2 linked regions of the Homo sapiens genome follow. The protein of the gene in region 1 purifies or fractionates together with the protein of each later gene. This does not show direct contact. Each region holds a gene or a part of one and is shown on either strand. Other genes may lie near its edges. The genes, in order: PTGES3L-AARSD1 and SEPTIN2.

The links.
Region 2: the proteins of PTGES3L-AARSD1 (region 1) and SEPTIN2 fractionate together in Homo sapiens (co-fractionation; one large-scale study listed by BioGRID). This does not show direct contact.

What each region holds. Positions count from the first base shown.
Region 1 is NC_000017.11:42,963,528-42,967,345, reverse strand, and holds part of PTGES3L-AARSD1 (PTGES3L-AARSD1 protein), read left to right. Parts: intron 1-2,891; exon of another isoform or gene 2,892-2,905; coding exon of another isoform or gene 2,906-2,944; intron 2,945-3,108; coding exon 3,109-3,240; intron 3,241-3,818. Other genes in the region: alanyl-tRNA editing protein Aarsd1, read left to right, coding at 2,906-2,944, 3,109-3,240. UniProt on the Homo sapiens protein: Functions in trans to edit the amino acid moiety from incorrectly charged tRNA(Ala).
Region 2 is NC_000002.12:241,350,364-241,354,181, forward strand, and holds the end of SEPTIN2 (septin-2), read left to right. Parts: intron 1-1,579; exon of another isoform or gene 1,580-1,603; 3' UTR 1,604-3,664; downstream 3,665-3,818.

The sequences.
Region 1 (3,818 bases):
ATAATATATATTTTATATATTATATTATATATTATATAATATATATTTTATATATTATATTATATATTATATAATATATATTTTATATATTATATTATATATTATATAATATATATTTTATATATTATATTATATATTATATAATATATATTTTATATATTATATTATATATTATATAATATATATTTTATATATTATATTATATATTATATAATATATATTTTATATATATGTAAAGACCTTGTCTTTAGGACAAACTATTTTTTTGTAAAGATTTGCTTGTTGCCCAGGCTGCTCTCAAACTCCTGGCCTTAAGCCTCCTTCCTCGGCCTCCCAAAGTGCTGGGATTACAGGCCTGAGCCACCATCCCTGGCCCCATACTGCATTATAAATACTATAATACCTATAATTTATTTTATACTATGTAGTTCTAAGGTATAATTATATAACATACAAAACAATATATAACATGGAACATAAACATATAGTATATATTACTTACATGCAGTATGTTAAAACTTAATTAGCAGATGTGTTGTGTGTGTCTGTGTGTGTACACAACTGGAATCATACCATCCGCATCTTGCATTGTGCCCTTTTTCATTTAATATATATTGGAGATCTTTACAAGTCAGAACATATAGATCTAACTCATTTTTTTCATGGCTATATGGTATTCCATTGAATGTATTTTTCATAATTTCACAGGTTCTTTATTGAGGGACACGTAGGTCGTTAGTCTTTTACCATATTCTTTTTTTTTGAGACGAAGTCTCGCTCTTGTCCCCCAGGCTGGAATGCGACGGCGTGGTCTCAGCTCACTGCAACCTCCGCATCCCGGGTTCAAGCGATTCTCTTGCCTCGGCTCCCCTAGTAGCTGGGATTACAGGCGCCTGCCACCAGGCCCAGCTAATTTTTGTATTTTTAGTAGAGACGGGGTTTTACCACGTTGGCCAGGCTGGTCTAGAACTCCTGACCTCAGGTGATCCACCTGCCTCGGCCTCCCAAAGTGCCGGGATTACAGGCATGAGCCACCGCGTCCGGCAGTCTTTTACCATTTGCAAACAATATTGCAATCAACATTTAAAAATGTGGATCTTTACATATTTTTGCCAGGATATCTGTAGGGTACATTTCTAGAAGTAGAATTGCTAGGTCAAGGAGTAGATAAAATACATTTAAACATTTTGATAGCTGTTACCAAGTTGCTCTTTGATGAAATTGTACCAATTCTCACTCCTACGAACAATGAGAGTGTTCCATTCTCTAAATCGTTTCAGATATTTGACAAGATAAAAATTAGCACCTGGTTTAATTTGCTTTTTTTTTTTTTTTTTTTTTTTTTTTTTTTGAGACGAAGTCTCGCTTTGTCAGCCAGGCTGGAGTGCAGTATCGCGATCTCAGTTCACGGCAACCTCCGCCTGCCAGGTTCAAGCGATTCTCCTGCTTCAGCCTCCTTAGAAGCTGGGATGTAATCCCAGCCTGTAGGTGCCCGCCACCACACCGAGCTAATTTTTGTATTTTTAGTAGACACAGGGTTTTGCCATGTTGGCCAGGCTGGTATCGAACTTCTGGCCTCAGCTGATCCAGGCACCTCGGCCTCCCAAACTGCTGGGATTACAGATGTGAGCCACTGTGTCTGGCCCAAACTATTTTAATGTAATGTAATGTAATTTTCTTGAGACGTAGTCTCGCTGGGTTACCCAGGCTGGAGTGCAGTGGTACGATTTCGGCTCACTGCAACCTCCTCCTCTCGGGTTAAAGTGATTCTCCTGCCTCAGCCTCCCGTGTAGCTGGGATTATATAGGCGTGTGCCACCACGCCTGGCTAATGTTTTTGTGTTTTTAGTAGAAACAGGGTTTCACCATGTTGGCCACGCTGGCCAAATTGTTCTTCTTTTTTTTTTTTTTTTTTTTTTTTGAGACGGAGTCTCGCTCTGTCGCCCAGGCTGGAGTGCAATGGTGCGATCTCGGCTCACTGCAAGCTCCGCCTCCCAGGTTCACGCCATTCTCCTGCCTCAGCCTCCGGAGTAGCTGGGACTACAGGCGTCCGCCACCACGCCCGGCTAATTTTTTGTATTTTTAGTAGAGACGGGATTTCACCGCGTTAGTCAGGATGGTCTCGATATCCTGACCTCGTGATCCGCCCGCCTCGGCCTCCCAAAGTGCTGGGATTACAGGCGTGAGTCACCGCGCTCGGCCTTTTTTTTTTTTTTTTTTTTTTTTTTTAATTGAGACGGAGTCTCGCTCTGTCGCCCAGGCTGGAGTGCAGTGGTGCAATCTCTGCTCACTGCAACCCCGCCTCCCGGGTTCCAGCGATTCTCCTGCCTCAGCCTCCCGGGTAGCTGGGATTACAGGCGCCCGCCACCACGCCCGGCTAATTTTTGTATTTTTAGTAGAGACGGAGTTTCGCTATGTTGGCCAGGCTGGTCTCGAACTCCTGGCCTGAGGTGATCCACCCGCCTCGACCTCCCAAAATGCTGGGATTACAGGCGTGAGCCACCTCCCCCAGCTCCTTGCTTTCTATTTCTACTGGGCAGTGCTGCTCAGTAACCATGCCAGTCCCGTCCCCGCCTCTATGCGCTGGGATTCCGCAGCCAGAATACTTACATCCCTGGGGCCCCAAGGGGCTCACTAAACCACGTGCCTTGTCCAGGTCGCGTTTTTTTGTTTTTGTTTGTTTGTTTTTTTCCTCCTGGTCTTGTCCTTTGTAAAGCCTTAGAACAGTCGTTAAACAACCCAGCAAATATGCAATTCGCGTTTTCAGTAAATTTATCCAAACCGCATTCCATTCCTTACCCTCCTGCTTCTGCGCAGACAAGCGCCCTTGATGACGTTTGTCCCACGTCGCTCTCCGTTCGCTCCCAGGCTTCTCTGCGCGTGCGCCTCCTCACACGCCTGCAGGTATGGCGTTCTGGTGTCAGCGTGACAGTTATGCCCGAGAGGTACGGCGTCACGGCGAGGCACTTGAGACTGCCGGGCCGGCAAGGCGGTTTGGGGAAGAGGGCGCCACGTGTAGGGAGTGCCAACATGGCATTCTGTCCTGGTGTGGAGAGGGCTAGGGCTAGGGCTGGGGTCGGGGCTTATTCTCTCATTCCTCTCTGTTCAGTTCACCACCACCGTGGTCTCCTGCTGTCCCGCGGAGCTGCAGACTGAAGGGAGCAACGGCAAGAAAGAAGTGCTGAGCGGTTTCCAAGTGGTGCTGGAAGACACAGTGCTTTTCCCTGAGGGCGGGGGACAGGTACCAAAACGATCTCTTCCCAGGAAGCCCCCAGTTTCTTTGTGCTCAGGCCGAAATGCTCTCCTGCCCCTTTTTTCTCAGCCATAATGAATTCAGATGAGCTTTAGTTTAATTCATTTTGTTATTCATTTAATGAGTATTTATCAGCAATTGCTTATCTAGACATAACATATGCTAGATATTATTCCAGGCTGTAAGGATAACCGGTGAACAACACAGTGCCTTTATATACGTGGAATGTTTATTGAAGACAACTGTGTGTGCTAGGTATAATAAGTAATAAACAAAAACCAAGTAAAGGGAAAGAGAGTGATGGGATGCTTGTCTAGATGAAGGGTAAGTTATTTCAGTAGAGACCTAAACGAAGTGAGGGGGTGAGTCTTTGCAATTATCTAGTGGTGCTGGGGGGCAGAGGGAGTATTCAGGCAGGTAGAATAGCAGGTGCAAAGGCCCCAAGGAAGGAATTAGCTTCGGGTTTTAGGGACTGAAAAAGATGTTCCTGAAGGAGTTCAGGTGAGATAGACGGGTTACAGTAGTACAGCAGAGAGCATATTTATCAGTGCTGTGATGAGGACTAG
Region 2 (3,818 bases), on another chromosome or scaffold:
CCACTACTTTGCCACCTACTTTCTAGTAAAGATTTTTCATATTTTTGTCTCTTCTTTTTTTTTTAAATAATTTCAACTTTTATTTTATTGGGGTACATTTGCAGGTTATTTTCTAAGCTTGCAAATACCAACATTAGAAGGAAATTATGTATTAAAGCACTTTTATTAGTTGTATTATTGGAAATTTGTTAATTGTTAAAACATCTCTTTAAAGGGAATAAAAACGTGTTATTAAAACAGCTTGTACAGATTAAAAGTAGAGATGGCACAAGGAAGAAGAATTATGTGAGGTAGATAAGGGTTCCCTGGATGGTGACTGCTGACCTCCTGTTCCTCAGATAGCTTTGTCCCGACTGATGGTCATTAGTGAATAGATCTGTCTGGCATGGTGTATGCTGGTCTGCCTGCTTGAAAAGAATCTGCAGACTCCAGAGACTCAGGACCAGGAAAAGGCAGATGCCCACTCCCCTGTATCTTATGTATCTTATGGACAGGCAGGCTCTCTGAACTGTCCAGGTGGCCACTCCCATCACTTGCCAGAGGAAAAGCATGAAAGGTAAAGTTAAGTAATGACCTAAGAGTCCAAAGAAGAGGGTAGGTCACATGGAGCTGGGGTAAAGGCAAACAAACCTCATACAAGAGATCTGATTAGAGCTTGAAAGAGAGTTTGAGTTGGCCAAGATCTGAGGATGAAACGCTGGGAATTTGGTAGAAGGTCTCTACTACAATTCAGGGACCTCATTCTGGAAGCATGAGTGTGTTCATGAAAACAGGGAGGGGACTTGAGCCTTCAACGACATACGGCAGGGTGGGTTAGGCAGAAGGCAGGGAGTCTTGAGGCCTCCACAGCATGTGGACAGGTGGCTGAGGAAGGACCCAGAGTGACTTGCTGGAGCCTTAGTCACCAAACGCTCTTGCAGCTTAGTGGGAAAGGTGTTCATTGTAAAATACGGTATTTACACAAAATGCACAAAAATACGTATGTACAGTTTAATAAGTTACTGTAAGGAAAACATCCATGTCACCCCCAACTGAGTCCAAGTTGGTTGCTTTAGTTTCATCATCACAGTGACACCTTAGAATAGTCCTGAGGGTATGTGCTTAGTTCACACTTTACTGATGAGGAAATTGTTGCCGCTCCGAGAGTTTAAAAGTATTTGCTGATGGTGCCATGACTTTTAAACGATGGCCTGCTGACTCTAGAGGCTGGTCCTGCATAACCAGTTAATGGCATGTGACTGGGGAAGTGAGGGTACAGTGGAAAGAGACAAGGATGCCTCAGCGATGCAGCTCATTTGAAGCAGGAAGCAGTGACAGGTGTTTGCTTATTTTCTCTGAGCTTCATTTTCAACCTTTATGGAATGAAAATTTTACTTTTAGATCGATAAAATTTTATTTCTGTATACTTTCTAGTTTTGCAGCATTTCCAGTTTCCAGGAGCCTCATGAATGGCTTTTTGGTTTAGTTAACTTTGTGGTCATGTAAGCCCTGCCTTTTGCTCAGTTTATGACCTTTGTTAAGGAGAAAAGTAGAACTGTTAATAATTAACGCAGCAGACATTGCCTCACTCCCACTTAAGTGTGTTTTGTTTTCTTTTTTCTAGAAAACACTTTCCTGGATAAAAAAGAAAACATTCCAGATGCATGATCCAGCTGTGTGTTTTCAATCCTTGGGAGGGTGCCATCCACATTTTAACAGTACCTGTGCCTGAGAATTTAATTTTTAAAAGACTTTGATGTGTTTTTGTATGAAGTACTTTTAACGTATGTATTTCATTGCTGTGTCACACTCTGTGTTTTGTGAGGTGAATGTCTTCCTTTTCTTTCTCCCTAACCACTAATGTTAGAATTGATTTCCAAGAATCGGCATGTATACTTAATACTGAATTTCTTTGATTTAACTGACTTAACAACTGACTAACCATTGATGAGCACTCCTGATTTTTATCTAGAACATTCAGATTTACCATAATGTTCCTTAGTGGTAGAGGTGTGTGCCTAGTGATGTAGAAAGATACACTGACTTGGTGCAAGGCCATCTGCTTACCACATCACACCACTTGGAGATCTTTGCTTCCTTGCTTTTATGTTTGTACACAACACCTAAAACCAGTTTTGCTGCTATAATTCTATACTGTTGATTCGTCTGCGATTTTATCTGTTAACCAAATAAAACATAATAGAATTTCCTAATGAGATATATCTTTATACTTAAACAGCTTTTTTAGAGGTGAGTTTTAAAGAAGTCTCTTAATTCTGATGCTAGGTTGTTTTTAAAACCACTATGCAAAGAACTCACCACAAGCCACCTTTTGTAGTGTTCTCCACTAATACTGGTTATCCTGTGCTACAGAGAAAATCAAAGCAGTCATAAGCTCCAGTTTTCGTATTGCAAATAAGACTCTTACCTACAAAATGAGATTCAGTGAACTAATTTGGTTTTTACTCAACCAAATTAAAAATTTTTTTAAGGAAAATTAGCAGTTGGTCTATTCAGAATCAAACCTTTTTATATTTTATACTGCACTTTAGTGTATTTTCTGTCACTGTAGGTATAGAAGATCTGCCTCCCCTGTGGAAATTGGGGTCTGTTGGTGGGCGTGCCCCTGAAGCCTGGCTTGGGTTGAAAAGTGTTCCCGCCCTAAGGCCTTGGTGCCCTGAACCTCTGATGCCTACCGGGTTCTCCTGATTTGAGTTTCCTTTAAATACTCCCTTTTTGAGTAATTTTCTGATGGGAGGAAAGTAGCAGTCATCATCTTTTTGTGTGCAGGCTGTCTCATTTATTTTTAGCCATTGTCGTTTCATTCATTTTGTGTAATATAAACCGTGTGTCATGTCAAAGTGAAAGACATTTCAAATCTGTAGCATAGGCTAGTGGGCAGGTCCGCACAGTCGAAGCCACACCTGGTCTGTTTTCTGTGCACTGTAGCCTTAGTGTCACCTTTCTTCTTGTGTCTCCTTATGGTACACTCCAGCGGTTGCCTTTTTTATCATTTCTACTGAAGTTGGGAAATTCAACCCCAGAAATTGACAGATGAAAGGAGACAATGGTTGTGTAGGGAGATGGAGAAAATGCTTAATCTGAGGATGAGACAGGGTTTTTTCATTTTTGTGGGGGCTAGAAAAAACATAAAATGAGGCAGTTAAATAATAATAGTTAATGAAGGTGTGCTACAGAAAATAATCTGGTGTTCTTGCTAACTTTGCCCTTCACTGTTGCTTAATTGTGAACAGCCAAAAGCTATATGTTATGGCTTATTGTGTGAAGGTAACTAAGAAGTGGTGTTCCATGACTTCAGAGTACATCCATGCGGAGTCCATTATTTGAGTTTGACATTTAATAACTTTGCTGGAAAATCTGTAAAAAAGAAAAACAAGTTTGCTAGTGACTAAGCCCCGCATATGTGAGTGAAAGTACTTCAGGCACGCTGCCTCCTGGTAACAGCTATGCAGGGAGGGAGGACCCACACTGCTACACTTCTGATCCCCTTTGGTTTTACTACCCAAATCTAAATAGATACTTTTGATAATAGATAACTGCTCTTTTACTAAGACATAGTCTCTACCTATAGAAATGTATTTTGAAAACACTTATTTTACACAGCAATTTTGTATCCATTTAAACTAACCTTTTATCAATAAAGCACTATTGTTTAGATATTAAATGAGTATTTCTCTTGGTTATTTGCAAGGGAAAGTTGTGAGGTTTTCTGGGAAAATTCAAAGTCTTGACAACATCTTTGTATAAAATCAAGAAAAATTACTTGAATCAATAGTGTCAGTACTGGACAAGTTTGTACGTATTGGAGATCCAGCCCA